2 separate regions of the Homo sapiens genome follow, and region 2 is linked to region 1. A link means that fine-mapping ties the variant in region 1 to the expression of a gene that starts in the linked region. Tissue or cell type: whole blood. Region 1 holds a variant in brackets; the other region holds the start of a gene. All regions are shown on one strand. Distances are from middle to middle.

The links. PIP is the estimated chance that this variant, and not a neighbour inherited with it, causes the effect.
Region 2: EPHB2 starts here. The variant in region 1 is fine-mapped to the expression of EPHB2 in whole blood (TOPMed, PIP 0.98).

Annotation. Positions count from the first base shown.
Region 1 is chr1:22,730,221-22,738,220 of GRCh38, forward strand. The region is part of intron 1 of EPHB2 (EPH receptor B2); the gene reads left to right. Among named protein-coding and RNA genes, the nearest start is that of MIR4684, 15 kb to the left of the region's middle. RefSeq lists an enhancer at 6,509-7,070. The variant G/A (reference allele first, on the strand shown) is at 4,838.
Region 2 is chr1:22,706,775-22,714,774 of GRCh38, forward strand. It overlaps EPHB2 (EPH receptor B2), which reads left to right and starts at 4,065. Exons shown (of 16, transcript NM_017449.5): 1 at 4,065-4,269. The coding sequence starts at 4,209. RefSeq lists a silencer at 2,752-3,037 and an enhancer at 5,259-5,358.

The sequences.
Region 1 (8,000 bases):
AGGGGCGGAGGCGGGGGTGGCTTGATGAGGCCACACAGCTAGTCAGTGGGACAGACGTGCACTCAGATCCAACGGATATCAAGCCAGGTGGCCCTTCCCCCACTTCTTGTGGGCACTTGGGTGGGAGGTGTCAGGGATCCCTGGCCTTTGGGGGTCTTGACATCCCAAGCTCTTACCAGCCATGTGGCTGTGGACAAGTTGCAGGGGGCAGCATGGATTGTCCTGCCCTATGGAGGTTTTATTCTAATGGACAGGACTGATGCCAGATATCTAGTGAGTAGCTTAAGTAGGGATGGTGCTAAGAAGAAAACTGCTGCAGAGATGGGAGGGCCAGCGAGAGGAGGGATCAGGAAGGCCTTTCTGAGGAGGTGACGTTTGAGCAGAGGCCAGAAGGAAGCAAGAGAGGGGGTTCAGGGATATCTGGGGGAGGGTGTTTCAGGCAGTGAGGAGAGCTGGGCAAAGGCCCTGTGACAGGGGTGTGCAAGGCAGCCAGCGTGGCTGGAGCGGGAGGGCCAGGGGAGAATGGGAGCAGGTGACACAGAGGGACCAGCCATGGCAGGACTTTGGCTTCTACCTGGAGTGAGATGGGAGCGGTGCAGGGCTTTGAGGAGGTGGCAGGATCTAACCTGGGTTCAGAAAGCACCACTCTGTCTTAAGAGGCCAGAGAGTGAGGGACAGAGCAGGGGACAGGAAGAACCATCACAGAGTCCAGGCACGAGACGGTGGTGGCTGGACCAAGCGGGCAGTGGTGGGGAGTTGTCAGTAAGTGGCCCTGGTTTTGCTCCCCAGGCTGCCTCACATAGTTTGGGGGATCCAGAGGGGGCGGAGAGAAAATGGACCTTAAATGTCTTCTCCCTCTGGCCTGCCCCCACTCACCCCAGGAGGCTCTGTTGGCATTTTTGGCATGGAAACATATGTCTCTTTCTTTCTAATGTAAATTGATAATGTATTGACAATGCGATCTCCTGGCAGCCAGGTTGGTGACTCTAGCATGTGCTAGATCATTCTGGCGGGGGGAATGGAGGGCAGAGGGACAGAGAAGAGCCTGGCCCGGGCCCAAATCCACCCCCATCAGGACTTGCTGAGCGACTGTGCACAAGGCCCCTTCCCTCTTTTGAGCTGGGGGCTGCACTGGGGGATTAGCGGACCACCGAGGGGCTCTGCAGTCACACCAGTTGGGTTCATGTCCTGGCACCAGCTCTTACTAGGTGTGACTGTGGACAAGTTGCTTCACTTCTTGGAACCTCAGTTTCCTTATCTGTCAAATGGAGAGGGTAATAGTCCTTACCTTAGTAGGTGGCTGAGACATAGTAAGTTCTCAACAAATAACCATCATCGGCTAGGCGCGGTGGCTCATGCCTGTAATCCCAGCACTTTGGGAGGCCGAGGCAGGCAGATCACGAGGTCAGGAGTTCAAGACCAGCCTGGCCAACAGCCTGTCAAACCCCATCTCTACTAAAATTATACAAATTAGCCAGGCGTGGTGGCGCGCATCTGTAATCCCAGCTACTCTGGAGGCTGAGGCAGGAGAATCGCTTGAACCCGGGAAGTGGAGGTTGCAGTGAGCCAAGATCACGCCACTGCACCCCAGCCTGGGCAACAGAGCAAGATTCCATCTCAAACAAAACAAAACAACAACAACAAAATCATCACTGTGTAGAAGCCAGGGCACAGAAGCCAGGGCCGGAATGCTTTTGTGCGGCCTGTGCCCCAGTCTTCATCCCACCCAAGAGGAATTTGCCTGGTCTTTGGAAGGATCTCTTGGGTCTCAGGACTTGCAGAACTTCAGCAGCAGCTGCCCTGGAAGGCAGCCCCCTCTAGCGGAGGAGATTCAGCTCTGGGCCATACAGACCATTTACAGGCTGTGTGACCTCAGCTTGGGAGCACAACCTTCCTGAGCTCCAGAGGTGATGAGCTCCCCTTATCTGTGCAGTGGGAATTAGAGGGCCTGCCTCCCAGAGTGAGGATGACATAAGAACCCACTTGGAAAGGGCTTAGAGGGTGGGGCTCTATGAATTCTGGCTCCCTTCTGCCCAGATGTGTGGGCCAACTGGCTCCCAGGAGTGGGAGCCAAGAGCTGCGGGGGCCTGGGAAAGGTGAGGGGGCCAGAGAAGGTGGGGGTGGAAACCTGGAGGCAGAGGCAGCAGGGTTTGGGGAAGCGCGTGGGGGGCCGGAGGGCGGCTCTAACTCTTCTCTCTAATTTTTGAGAAAATCTTTACCCCATCTTCATATAATTAAGAGTATTTTTAAAATGCCTTGTTGAAATAAAAATAGTCCATTTCCATATGACCTCATTTCATTCCACACCCTCAGTGCGCGTGTGCACACAGATATACACACGCACACGAATGTCTAGATTTTTAAAGCTGCCTTTTGTGCCTCTGCTGAAGGGGTTCTTATTTTTGCCTAGCAGGTAAATATTTAGGGACTGCCCCCCGGCCCCGCTTTATTTTCTGATTTGCAATTGGAGGCCCTCTAAGGTCCATTAACAGCAGCTGACACTGTGCGGCTCTGCAGCTTACAAGGCGCGCTCACATTGATATCTCCATTGCTCCTCCTGCGTTCCTGGGCGGGGGTGTCACCATGACCCATCACTTAGAGATAGGACCATCTTTTTACCAGCAGCATCTAGTCCAGACCTGGCACATCACACACAAAAAATCAGCTAGTGTCTGTTGAATACAGATGAAGAATGAGACGCATAACACAGATGAAGAAATTGAGGCTCAAAGAGATGAAAGGATTTGCCCAAGTGGATTTTTTCCTGAGTTTTAATCCAGGACTGTCCAGACTCTCTGTATGTTCCCCCTCCTAGGCTGCCTTTCTTTCTTTCTTTCTTTCTTTTTTTTTGGAGTTTCGCTCTTGTCGCCCAGACTGGAATGCAATGGCGTAGTCTTGGCTCACTGCAACCTCTGCCTCCCCAGTTCAAGCGATTCTCCTGCCTCAGCCTCCTGAGTAGCTGGGATTACAGGTGCCTGCCACCACGCCTGGCTGATTTTTGTATTTTTAGTAGAGACGGGGTTTCACCGTGTTGGCCAGGCTGGTCTCAAACTTCTGACCTCAGGTGATTTGCCCACCTCAGCCTTCCAAAGTGCTGGGATTGCAGGCGTGAACCACTGTGGCTGGCCCAGGCTGCCTTTCTAACCAGCCTCTTTATTTTCAGATGGGGAAACCAAGACCCAAAGAGGATAAGGACCTGTGCAAAGTCACACAGTGATGAGTGATGATATGAATGATGAAAATATTAGCGTTATACAATTTTAACATTCATGTTAACAGTCATTTTAAAGGATTGATTTTACGGAGTAGTTTTGCACGGTGGAAATCAGCATATACCATGGCCTTATTATGTGCCATGTTGCCATGCTGAATCCACCACTGTGAGGCAGGATTATTATTATTTTTGTTTTAGAGGAAAACTGAATCTCTGAGAGGTTCAGTAAATTGCCCAAGGCCACATAGCCAGTAAGGGGCGGAAATGGGATTTGAACCCGCGATTCTCTAAGTCCAAAGCCCATGCTCATGACACGCTACTACATCAGGCTGGTATGATTTGGTGGGGACAGAGCTAGAAGTTGAACCCGGGACTGGATTCTTGGCCTGGTATGATTTGGTGGGGACAGAGCTAGAAGTTGAACCCGGGACTGGATTCTTGACCTGGTATGATTTGGTGGGGACGGAGCTAGAAGTTGAACCTGGGACTGGATTCTTGGCCTGGTGTGATTTGGTGGGGACAGAGCTAGAAGTTGAACCTGGGACTGGATTCTTGGCCTCCTGATCCCCAAAAACAAAACCCCAGCCCAGAGGCCGCAGGAGTGGCCCTGTCAGGAGCTTCTCAGTCAAGGACAGAGCTCTGCCCTGGGCCTCCCACCCAGGGCCAGCCTGGGCTTGGGCAGGGGGCTCATGTCTCTATCAGGCCTCACTGTGAGGGGGCTTTGGAGCAGCTGCCTCTGTGGCCCAGCCTGCATGCAGGCAGCTGGTCCTGGCTGCCTCTTTAGCAGGAGCAGGATAAATCTTACCCCCCGGCACAGCCCATGCACAGCCCAGTGTGGTTCACAGCATCCTTTCCCCTCCACAGTCTCACCTGAGCTTCACAACATCCTTGTGAGACAGTTAGGGTAGGGCTCCCCAGTCTTCATGCAGAGAAACCAAAGCCCAGAGATATATACACTCAATAAAGTACCACCAGAATGTCAATATTCTTTTTTTTTTTTTTTTTGAGACTGAGTTTCGCTCTATTGCCCAAGCTGAAGTGCAGTGGCGCAATCTCTGCTCACTGCAACCTCTGCCTCCTGGGTTCAAGCGATTCTTGTGCCTCAGCCTCCCGAATAGCTGGGATTACAGGTGTGCACCACTGCGCCCGACTAATTTTTGTATTTTTAGTAGAGATGGGGTTTCACCATGTTGGCCAGGCTGGTCTCTAACTCCTGACCTCAGGCATCTGCCTGCCTCAGCCTCCCAAAGCACTGGGATTTACAGGCATGAGCTACCACTCCCGGCCTGAATGTCAGTATTATTTTGCTGTGGTTCTTAATTTCTTTGGGGTCCTGAAGATCCTTGAGAAGCTGCCACAGGCTATGAACTGCCCCCTCCTAGAAAGTTGGAGACACACAGATACTTTTATGAAAAAATTCAGGGGACTTACAGATTACAAGCCTCTGTTGTGTTGCTCCATGGTACTGATGATAATGAATACAACTTTGTTTTATTGAGCCTCTGCTTTGTGCTGGGCAGGGTGTTTGATGGTTTACATACATTATCTCAGAACACCCCTGCAGGGTAGGAGACTGAGGCTCAAGGGAGGGTGACACTGACTAAGGCTGCACAGCAGGGCTAT[G/A]AACCTGCTCTACCGACTCCTGTGGCCTGTGGGGCATGGTGTGGGAGCATCTTCCTGAGGCTGCTGTTAAGAACAAGGACCTTTGCTGGGTACGGTGGCTCACTCCTATAATCCCAGCACACTTTGGGAGGGTGAGGCAGGAGGGTGAGGCAGGAGGATTGCTTGAGGCCAGGAGTTCGAGACCAGCTTGGGCAACACAGTGTGACCCCATCTCTACTAAATTTTTTTTTAATTAGTCAGGCATGGTGGCATGTGCCTATAGTCCCAGCTACTTGGGAGGCTGAGGTGGGAGGATCGCTTGAGCCCAGGAGGTCAAGGCTGTAGTGAGTCATGGTCATGCCACTGCACTGCAGCCTAAACAACAGAGTGAGACCCGGTATCAAAAAAAAAAAAAGAAGAAGAAGAAGAAGCAGAAGTAGAACCAGGGCCTCTAAGGAAGTTTACAGTCCATACTTTCTGCCTTTGGAAAAGACTGCTGGCTTACCCCAGGCCTGAGAGCAGGAACAGCTACTGAGGACAGGGTTTCTAGCAACCTCTGAACTCCCAGCAGGGAGCCTCCTTCTCCCACTTCCCAGGGGTCTGATTTGAGGGCCCTGGGTAGAGCCTGTCTCAGCTCTACATGATGGGAAAGTCTGCAATTCAAGCTTGACTCATTTGGCTTAACTCATGGGAATTTGCCTTCCTTGAAATCCTCTTCCCACCCTGGGACAGCCTAATGATTCCTATAGGGCACTTGGGACGCCCTTGGCAGTGAGTCGGCCCAGAGAGCAGGACTGAGGGAGAGGGCTGGGAGGTCAGTAGGGTCACTAGACTTAGGGCAGAGCCCCTGCCTGTGCACCCCTCAGGACCGGAGCAGCCTAAGGTATCTTGTACAGTGGATAAGAGTGTGGGCTCTGAGGGACCTGGGTTCAAATCCTGGCTTACACCTACACGCTCTGTGACTTTCGATAGGCTCTTTTCCCTCTCTGAGCCTCAGTTCCCCATTAGTAAAATGAGGATGATAAATAGCACTAAGAGACATGTGGCCCTGTCCCTGGCCCAAAGGTAGTGCTCAATAAAGATGATCGTAGTGGTCATCGTTGTTGCTGTCATAAGCAGAGTCGGGGGGCTGTGGAAGAGAGCTCATCGTACACACGGGGGTCTACAGGAGGCTGCTCAGGAGACCTCCCTTTCCTCTTTGGCAAGACTGTACCTGAAAGGGGATTGGGCGAGGAGTGATAAGGCTGGTATGGGGGAACGTTTGGGGACAAGGCGGCCCCTCTTGCCTGGTTGGTGTGGGGAATGAGGCCTGGTGCTGGGCCCAGAGACGTAAAAGCCTCTCCCCTTCAACTTTCCTCCCAAATAATTCTGGAGGCTGGACAAAGAGTTCCATGGGGCCCCCCTTCCCAATGCATGAGCCGAGGCTCTGTTTAGCAGCCCCCACCCCACAGACCCGCCTCAGTCACTGTGTTGGCCAAAGCATGGTTCCCTGGGGGTGGGAAGGAGCCTGGGAGCCTCGGTGGGGCCTGCAGGCCGCGGTCTGGTTCCCAGAGGCCCTGGAGGGGGCCCCTTCACAGCTTCAGCACGAGGCCCTTTGAGGGTGGGGGCAGCCTCCGCAGCGCGGCATGTTTGCGCCGCTGACACTCTGGCAGGGTCACTGTGGATAAAGGCGCTGCCCAGACCCCGGGCCCAGCCTGCAATGGGGCTTTCTTGTCAGAGAGGAGCCTTTTTTTCCCAGCGCACTGTGGGGCGGCCGCAGGGGGTCACCCTGCCTAGGAGGATAATGGAGCTTTGGGCCAATGGAGACACAGGACTCAGCCGGCCCCCTCCCTGTCAGACCTGGGGAGGAGGGGAGACTGGGGGAGACCGATTGGCTCGGATCAGCCGCCACCTTGGCCATGGCTCTCTGGGTGGAGTCAGAAGGGAAGACACAGTGGAGAACCTGGGACTCCCCCAGGCCTCCAGGTGTCTGCGAATCCAGCCATCGGCGTGACGAGGAATCTTGGGCAAGTCATCCAGTGCTTCCGTTTCTAATCTGGCTGCCTTGTGGTTCTCAGGAGAGACCACCAGGGCCAGAGCTAGCACGGCCCTTTTTAGCTGTGCCTCCCTCTCACCCTGGCCATTCAGCTACTGCCTGCCTTTCTGTTCCTACAGCTACCACCTGACCTCAAGTCTACCCCCTGCCCCACCTGGACCATCTCAGTGACTTCTGAACCCCACAAAGCATCACCACTGAGTCTTCTAAACTGCAGCTGAGACCACATTACCCTCCTGCTCAGACCTTGGGCTCCTTATCTAAAAAAATCAAGGTCAAACAGCTGCTCGTTGACCTGGCCCCTGAGGCCTTCTCTGCCTGTCCTTGTCATCCCACAAACTCTAGGTGGATGTCATTCTCATCCATAAACTATAGGTTTCATACATACATGTTATAAACTCCCATGCCCCCAGATCTTTGTTCAGGCCCCAGCTGCTGCCTAGAATGAATGCCCTTCTTGCTTCTGCCTAGTGAACTCCTACTCATCCTTCAAGGCCCAACTCAAATGTCCCCTCCTTGGTATATCCTTCTTTGTACTTACCCTCAGCTCTTGATTAACAATTCTTATAACACCAAGGTATGGCTAATTTTGTCTACATCACCCTCCCCCATTAAACTGGAGTGTAGAGACTTTCTTGTCTTATTCATCGTTGGGCCTCCAGTGCCTAGCACAGAGTCTGTTACCAACAGGCTCTTGGGTTGATGTTTTATGAATGAGAGAATGAATGAATACATTGTCTGCCCATGAAAATAACTTCCCCCTCTATCCTAGAGGCTTTTACAACTCAGCATGACACTCCCACAAGACCTTGGAAGTAGGAGGAAATTATCATGATGCACAGGCTGTTCAGATGCCTCTGAAACTAGGTAGAACCTGGAATGAGACTGGATCTGGGTCTCAGGCCAGAACAAGGCAGCTCTTACATCAACCTAGCCTCGCAGAGGTCTTGGAGTTCATGCTCTACCTTGAGGCAAGACCTGGTCAAACCATTTAAAGATAAAAAAAATACTAACTTATCGCAGAGTTGAGAATTCTCCACTTAGGGGCTGGATGGATTCTTAGAGGCTACCTGGCCCAACCCCCTCTTTGGGGATGATTTATACAGAAGCACAGATGGCTTTGTTCACTTGGGATCCTTGTCTTAGTTT
Region 2 (8,000 bases), 23 kb before region 1:
GTCTATTCTATGTTTTCTCTGGGCTCTGCCACTCAGTGTAACATGTTTCCCCCCTTCAAGAGCCCCACTACCTTTCCCCTCAGGAAGAAGGAGCCTCAGGGAAAGCAAAGGGAGCCTAGAGCTCATTGGCATCCTCTGGTATGGCTGAGATCCTCACCAAGGTCCTGTTGCCCCCACTGAATCCACGACAAAGAGAGGGCTGAAAGTGGCCTCAGAGAAACCACCTTGGCCAATGCCCTCATTTGGCATTTGTGGCAAGTGGGGCCCAGAGACGGTGAGTACCCTGCCCAAGGTCACACAGTAAGTTAAGGGAGGGCTAGGGAGTTAAGGGAGTCAAGTTAAGGGAAGCAAGTTAAGAGAGCCCCTGGTGTCTCCATCTAGGGGCTCTAGAGGCCAGCCCAGCCCCACAGACCGGGAGGATGGTGGCATGGGTTAACACATGGGGTCCCCCAGGCCCTGCTCAGCCAAGTTCATGCTATTTCCTCTACCTCCAATCTATCCAGTCTCAACTTATAATCCTCCATGACTCCCCCATTGAGGTTAAACTACAATCCATATTCTCCCTCCCTGATGTAACCTCCTCCACGCTCCAGTTGATTGCCGTACTTCAGCTCCTATTCCCAGAGGGTACCCAGTGTGTTCCCACCTCAGGGCCTTTGCCTCTGCAGTTTCTTCCACCTGGAGCTCTCTTCCCACATGTTGGCATGGTAGACTCCTCGCTGTCCAGCTTTTAGCTGCCATGTTGCCTAAGAGGCCTTCCCTGATTCCCCTGGCCAGAGCAGCCCCCTGCCCTCCGTCAATCACTGCCCCATCACCCTGGTCATTATCTTTCTCGCACTTACCATTATCGTTATTAGCTTGTCCCTATATAGGTCTCTCTGCAGCAGAATATAGGCTCCCAGAGAGCAGGGCCTTGTCTGGCAGGTCCACAGCTGCGTCCCTGCCTCCTCAGTGCCTGGTATGCAGGAGGTGCCCAACTAATGTTTGTCAATCAACTCTGATTGAAAGAGACCTAGACAAGACAGGTCACTGAAGCCTCACTCCAGCTGCACCAAAAACAAACAAAAAACCCCAAACCTTCCACATGTCTTTGGGCAAGTGGCCCCTCTTTGGGCCCCAATTTCCCCGTCTGAAAAATGGCGTTCCCTGGCTGCCGGGCTGGCTCGCAGGATAGGCTGGTTGAATTAGCATGAGTCGAGTTGATGGGTGTGAACGCTGCTTTGTAAACTGTTAAAGCGTGATTGCAAATTCGAGTAGCTGTTGTCATTAGACAAATGAAGCTTAAACCGCCTCCTCCTCTGCTGAGGAGGGGATTGGGTCAGATGCTCCCTGGGGCCTCCTGCCCTGGCAGTGTACAGTATAGTTTTGCATCCAGGCACTGCCCTCATGGAGCTCACAGTCGGCTGGAGTTGTAGAGATAACGTGCAAATCAGAAACAATCCATCAGAGAAACCAGCAATGGACCATGTGGGGCTGATTATCTTTCAGGGAACAGATAATAGGCAAATAGGTCAGTCAGAGAGGGGTGAGGCGAATGTCAATTAAGCTCTTGGTGGGGGCTGGGGTGAGGCTGAATCCAAGTCTTTAGAGCCAAGAAGGCAACCAGGTGGAGTGCACAGCTGGGACAAAAGCACAGCTAAAGGCGGTTGCCAAGAAATCAGGGAGGAGAGCCTGGCCAGACTGCAGAACCCAGCCACCCCAAATGGGGAATAAAATACTGTTTAGAGAGAAGAGGATGTGAGAGAAGGGGAACTTAATTATGATCAGTAATTTTCTATTTTTGCCAGGTAAAGGCCCTGGATAGATGTCTATTTCATCAGATAACGTTGGGTGAGTCACTTTCCTTTTTAGGCCTCAGTTTCCTTATCTGTGAAATAGCCTGTGGGAAGAGCCCTGAGCTCTGTGCTTCTGTGAAAGGTACAAGGAGGTCAGCACTGGGGTCGGACGGACATGGGGTTGAATCCTAGCCCAATTTGCCATGTGACTTTGGACAAATTACTTATCTGGTCCTCAGTTTCATCATGTGAAAAGATCAGCACCTGGTGCACAGAGTAGGAAAGATTAAGGGGGACAAGAAATAAACAAAGCCCAGCCTAGTGCCTGGTACCATGTCCTCAATAAAGCAGAGTCACTGGTCTTCCTATTTTGAGACAAAAAGGAAGTAACCACTGGCCCTGGGTAGGTGGAGTCAAGGGTCCCAGGAAATAGAAACAAAGCAAAAAAGCTGAATCTGCACAGTACATAATAGGTGCTCAATAATGACTTCTTGAATTTGGAAGTGTCTAGCACCTGGATGCACTGGAGGGGGCCAGAGCTTAGAGCTGCTCTGTCCAGGAGAGGGAGGATTGCCTCAAGATGGGCCAAGCTTGGGGTCCCTCAAACCCTGGGTCTCCTGGAAGGTCTGACAGGCAAGAACTGAAAATAAAGGCTAGCCCCACCCCAGTGGATCTTGACCCTGGTGAGGGGTCTGTAGACTTAAAAGGGGGAATCTTCGTTTCTCCTCTCTCCCTGCTCACTCAAATAGGAACGGTAGTGGCTCTGCCAGCCCCACCCCACTGGCTCTTGACCCTGGTGAGGGGTCTGTAGGCTTAATAGGGGGAAATCTCCTGTTTCTCTTCTCTCCCTGCTCACTCCTGTTCTGTCTCCCTCCCAGGCTGCCTCCTCCTGGTGGCCTTCCAGGATGACACCCATTTCAACTGGACTCTTGGAGCTTCAAGAGACGACCCAACTTTCCAAACCTTAGATGGATTCCCAAAGCCTGTGGTACCCCATTTTCTTGGTATGGACTGAAGGGGAGGGATTGCTGGGACATTTTGATAGTATGTGGGACAAAGGGACACAGGAGATGTGGGTAGCATAGACTTAAACTGCCTTCGACTTAAACCACCTGCTCCTGCACTGGGCTCCTCCACTCACTCCACAGAGTTCCGAGCTCCTGATGAAGTCTCCTCAGTCAGGAGTGGGCTCCCAACTGCCAGGGGTTCAGCCTGGGTGATTGCCGCAGGCCCCCTGCAGCCGCCCACCATCCAGACTTCAGTAAAGTCTGTTAATGATGATGGTGATGAAGGCTGTCAGAGCAGGGCAGGGCCCACAGGGTTGGGGCTAGGGTTGTGTTCTCCCTGAAGGGACGGCCATGCACAAAACCACGGCTGCACAGACAGGTCCATTCCACAGCGTGGGGGTGGCTGGGGCTTTCCCCAGATTCACCCATGGACTTCCTTCACCCCATCCCCAAACTGCACTGGGAGCAAGATCAACAGAGAAGGAGAAATCTAATACAGACATAGACGAGTCTGCAGTGAGGGGCTCGCGGGCCAGCTCAGAACAACGGGGCAGGGAGGGGAGGCCTGGGGTCTGCCTGCAAGGGCCCAGCCCACCAGTGCCGAGTGACCACCCTCCCCCCAGCCCCACCCCAGGCCCTCGGGTAGCGCCAAGGCCCAGTCTCCCACTCGGAGGCCCCGGCCCAGCCCCGGTGCCTGGGAAAGCCGCCTGTTTTGTTCCCAGATGCCACCCCCCCACACACACCCTTTTTTTTTTTTTTCCATTCATTGCAGTTCGGTCCCTTTCGAAGCCGCAGGGACCCGGGTGGCAGGGCTGAGGCGAGGGGGTGGGACTCCCTGCCCTGACAGGTAGTGCCGGCCCCCGCTTTGGGAAGCCCCTTCCCCCGCCCTCCCCTCCGTCCGCTCTCCCTGCCCCTGTCAGCCGCGCCAGACGCTCTCCGGCTTTGCAGCATTCAATAAAAATTGAGAAACATTTGGGCTGAAATCGCTGCTTTATCTGGAGGAGCCACAGCGCCGGGAGAGACCACTGCTGCGCGGGGGGAGCCCGGGGTCTCAGTGGCCCGGGCACGCGGGGTCGCCGCGCTCCAGCGCCCGCGCTGCCCCCGGGTGACCCTACGGGCGCGGTGTGGGGACCCGGGCTCGCGGCGGCGCGCGGCCGCCGGGGGCCGGGACGCGCGCGGGGGGCGGTGGCCTGGCGAGGCTCCCCCCGCGCCCGCGGCTCAGGTGGGCCGTGCCCAGCGCTGGCGGAGCCCGGGTCCCCGTTCTGCCCGGGCTGGATGGCTCATTCTGCTGGCTGCGCGGTGGCGGCGGCTGTGTGTGCGCCGCGCCTTGCCGCCCCCCCTGGCCCCCCGAGCCCGGGGCGCGCGCTCCCGCCCGGGCCGTCCGGGCCCCGCGGCGCCGCGGCCCGAGGCCCCGGGAAGCGCAGCCATGGCTCTGCGGAGGCTGGGGGCCGCGCTGCTGCTGCTGCCGCTGCTCGCCGCCGTGGAAGGTGAGCGAGCGGGCGGGCGGGCGGGCGATGGGGGCGGGGAGCGGCCGGGCACGGGCGGCCGCCGGCGCCCACCTCCGCTCCGCGGCCCGCAAAGTTTGCCCGGGGGCCGGCGCCGGGCGCAGGTGGCCGCGGGGAGGTGTGTCCGGCCGCGCCGGGAGGAGCGGGCCCCGCGGGCGCCCGGGGAGCGGCGGGCGCTGATTGACTGTGCCAGGAGGAGGCGAAGGGACCATCTTGCCGAGGCTTTGTAGCCAGCCCGGCGAGCGCCGCCCAGGGCTGGGGGCTGCCCACGCGCGCTCGCCGCCCCCGGCTCGGGCAGCCGCCTCGCGCCGGCCTGGTCTTGCTCCGCACAGGGTGGAGGGGCGCGGGCCCGGCCGTGGCGGGGGGCGGGGGGGGCGCCGGCGCTCGGTCGGGGCTGGAAAGTTTGGCAGGGAGCAGAGGGAGGGAGGCACCGCGGCCGGCCGGGGTGGGGGCTCCCGGCCCGCGCCCCCGAGATGGGGCCCGGCGCCCCGGAGAGCAGGGACTGGCAGAGTGGAAGGGAGCGCGCCAGCCCCCGCGTCGGTGCCTGCCCATCGCCCGCGGCGTACAATGGGGTCCCCTCCCCGAGAGGACTGCGCGGGGGATGGGTCTGTGGGCATCTCTCCGCCGCGCAAGGTCTCCGGGCACCCCCGCCGGCCACCGCCCCGCGGCCGCGGCGCTCAGCGTGGCGGCTGGAGCCCCGGGAACTCTCCAGCTGCCGCCGGGGCCGGACCAGATGCTCTTGCCATGTGTTGGCCTTGGCCAGGGTCGCGGGCCCTCTCCCCGTGGCCTCGTGTATTGGTACCACTCGACCCCCAGGGGGGCAAGGGTAGTTGCTAGGTCTCCCGAGCCAGCTTGCTCTGGAGGGAAAGTTAGTGCGGTCTGGGTGTGTCCACCAGGAATGGCCGAGCTTGCAGGGCAAGAAGCGAACGTGAATAATGGTTCTCACGTGTACTGCACTTTACAGTTTTCAAACCACTTTACAGTTTATGAAGTACTTCGCACTATACGCAGCTCTCTGTGGTTTACAACGTGCTGCACAGTTGACAAGGTACTTTAAGCTTTACAAAGTGCTTTCCCGCCCACCAGCGTGTTGGATCCCTCAAAATACACCTTCCGGGGAAGACAGGTAGGTATGATTCCTACTTCTCTTGAACAGATAGGGAAACCGAGGTTCTGAAAAGTCCGATGTCTCACCCAGGGCCGTTGGGTGACAAAAATAGAACCCAGGTCTGTGGTCTTTCTTTGAAACCAGCACTCACTTAGCTGGGTTTTGTTGCCCCTAAACTGCGTGAGCCCTTCCAGGGTTCTGCTCCCTTGGGCTTAGGGATGATGTCTGTGTGCACCTCTCAGGCCACTTTAGGGTTGTGGGGCGCCCCTTCCCTTCTTGCAGCCTAAGAAAAAACGCATATCAGACCAGACGTGGGGGCTGCGGCCTCTGGGAAAGGCGTCGTGGGGGACCCTGTGCTACAACTTCAGTTTCTCTTTCGGTAATGAGCACTTTAGTGACCGCAGTCAGGGGGTGGGGGGTGTCCCTGGATGGCAGCCACAGTTTCTGGCACTGAGGCAGCTGTCCTTCGGCTCCTGGGGGATTTGGCGGCTGACTGCGGTTTCCCGGAGTGGGGCCACTGGGGCACCTAGGGTGCCACGGGCCCTGGGTGTGGAGGGCAGCCCTGGGGCCTGGCTGCTGGCGGGAGCTCTGTGGAATATGGCTGAGGTACCACTTATTAACTCTGGCTTTGGGGAAATGACTCATGCGTTGGCCCGCTATACATTGGGATGTTTACAGTATTATGGGGAGCTTGGCATAAATATTGCTATTTAGGTTGCAGTCAGCGGTGCTGGAGGGGAAGAAAATTGGCCCCTCTCTCGTTGGAAGAGGCCTGGGTGTGTTTTTAATTACTCTGGGGTAGATGGAAGGGCCACATCTGTCCAGCCATCGCCCTGGCAGAGGCTGGTTGGAATCTGGTGGGCTGTGGCCAGCCTGGACCCTGGCCCTGGACACAGGGCTGGTGGGCGCTGACGTCACAGGAGGGTATGGCTACTTGGACTGCCACTTGGGGGCAGGGTGGGGAAGGGAAGCCACAGCAGGGTGGGAGGAGGGCTGCAGCAGGCACCCCAATGCTTGCCTCAGGCTCTTGTTCCGTTTGCCCCCTGGACACTAGGAAGTTAGTCCATCAGTGGTTAATAAGGAGCTGGCCGAATGGATGGGGAGATGGTGTGAGGTGGAGGTCAGAGGGCCTGCTTCTCATTTACTATGGGACCCTGGGCCAGGTCCCTTCCCTGTGGGGGCCTCAGTTTCTCTGGGTGTAAAATGGCCTGGCTAAATATCTTGTAGAGTCCATCGTCTACGCCCTACTTCCCCTCTTTGAGCCTCGTTTTCCTCCCCCGTCTAGTGAGAGTGATGACAGCGCCTGTCCTGCCTGTCTCCTGGGGTGTTTGTGAGGATCAGACCAGATGATGGGTGGGAGAAGTCCCCCTTCAAAGCCAGGGATGGACGGTGCTGCCTGTGCACATTTGGGGGGCGGTGCTGCCTGTGCACATTTGGGAGACACCAGGGTCCTCCTGAGGGTGACACAGTCTGTGGAGACAGGACTGGGCCGTGGAGCAGTAGGAGGGTGGCCCCTCTGGCTCCCAGAACCCAGAGCCACATGGCTACCACTTCCTTCCCTTCCTCCTTCCTTGTCTCCTCAGCCCGTAAAGGGCTGTCCTGCCGGTTAAGTCCCCAGGAAATCCCCAGCTCCAGCCTTCGGAATGGGGGAGAGGAGAGTGTGTGTGTATACGGGGGGTTTCTAGGTTAGGACGGTAAGCTTAGCATCTCCCCCAAACTGTGAGACCGCCCCCCGACCAAGTGAAAGAAAGCATGGAGCATGTGAAGTGGCGGCGAGCAGGATGGAAGAGCACTGGGGAAACGTCCAACAGGACAGGAGGCCGGTGGCAGACCCTGTCCATCCCTGGCCGATGGAATCCAAAGGTCAAGGTCTCAAGAAAACAGCCTCCTTACATCTGCTCCTTTGCTCTCCAAATATCGATAGAGTTTCCTCTCTGGCTGACAGGGTGCTGGACTCCGGGGCAGGCAAGGAGACGGGACAAGCTGACAGGGAAAAGAGTGGGCGAGACAGAGCATGATACGGGGTCCAACGTACTTCCCAGAGGAGGCTGTGAACCCCCCGGGGCGGCAGGTGCACTTGAGGACAGAACAGGGTTATTTCATCTTTTATGCTGTTATGCATTGCCTCATTTTCTCACCACCCATTTTCCCTGCTATGAAACTTTCTTAGCCACCTGTCATGCTAACGAACTGTGTTCTCAAGAGTTAAAGAGGTTGACTTTAGAACTTATAGGATGTGGAGAATTTTACCTAAAAAAGGAAATAGCATGTCTATATGTCCATAGAAAGACATGGAGGCAGGATGATCAGGTGCTTACTTTGATGTGTCTGAGGAGGGTGGGTGTTGAGGGCAGCAGTGGGGGTTGAGACTGAGAATGGGAGTGGGGTGGTCAGGTCCTGAAGGGCTAGAATGGAAGGCTGGGGAGTTTGGATCAAATGCTGAGGGCAGCAGGGAGCCCTTGAAGGTTCTTGAGCTATCAAGGGACCTGGCCAGATTCATGCTTGGAAAGATCACTGACTTGCAATGTGTGGTGACGTTCAGATGAGCCAGATCTGGTCCTGGACAGTCACAGTAAAGCCAGCTTGTCGGTTCCCGGCTAGACTG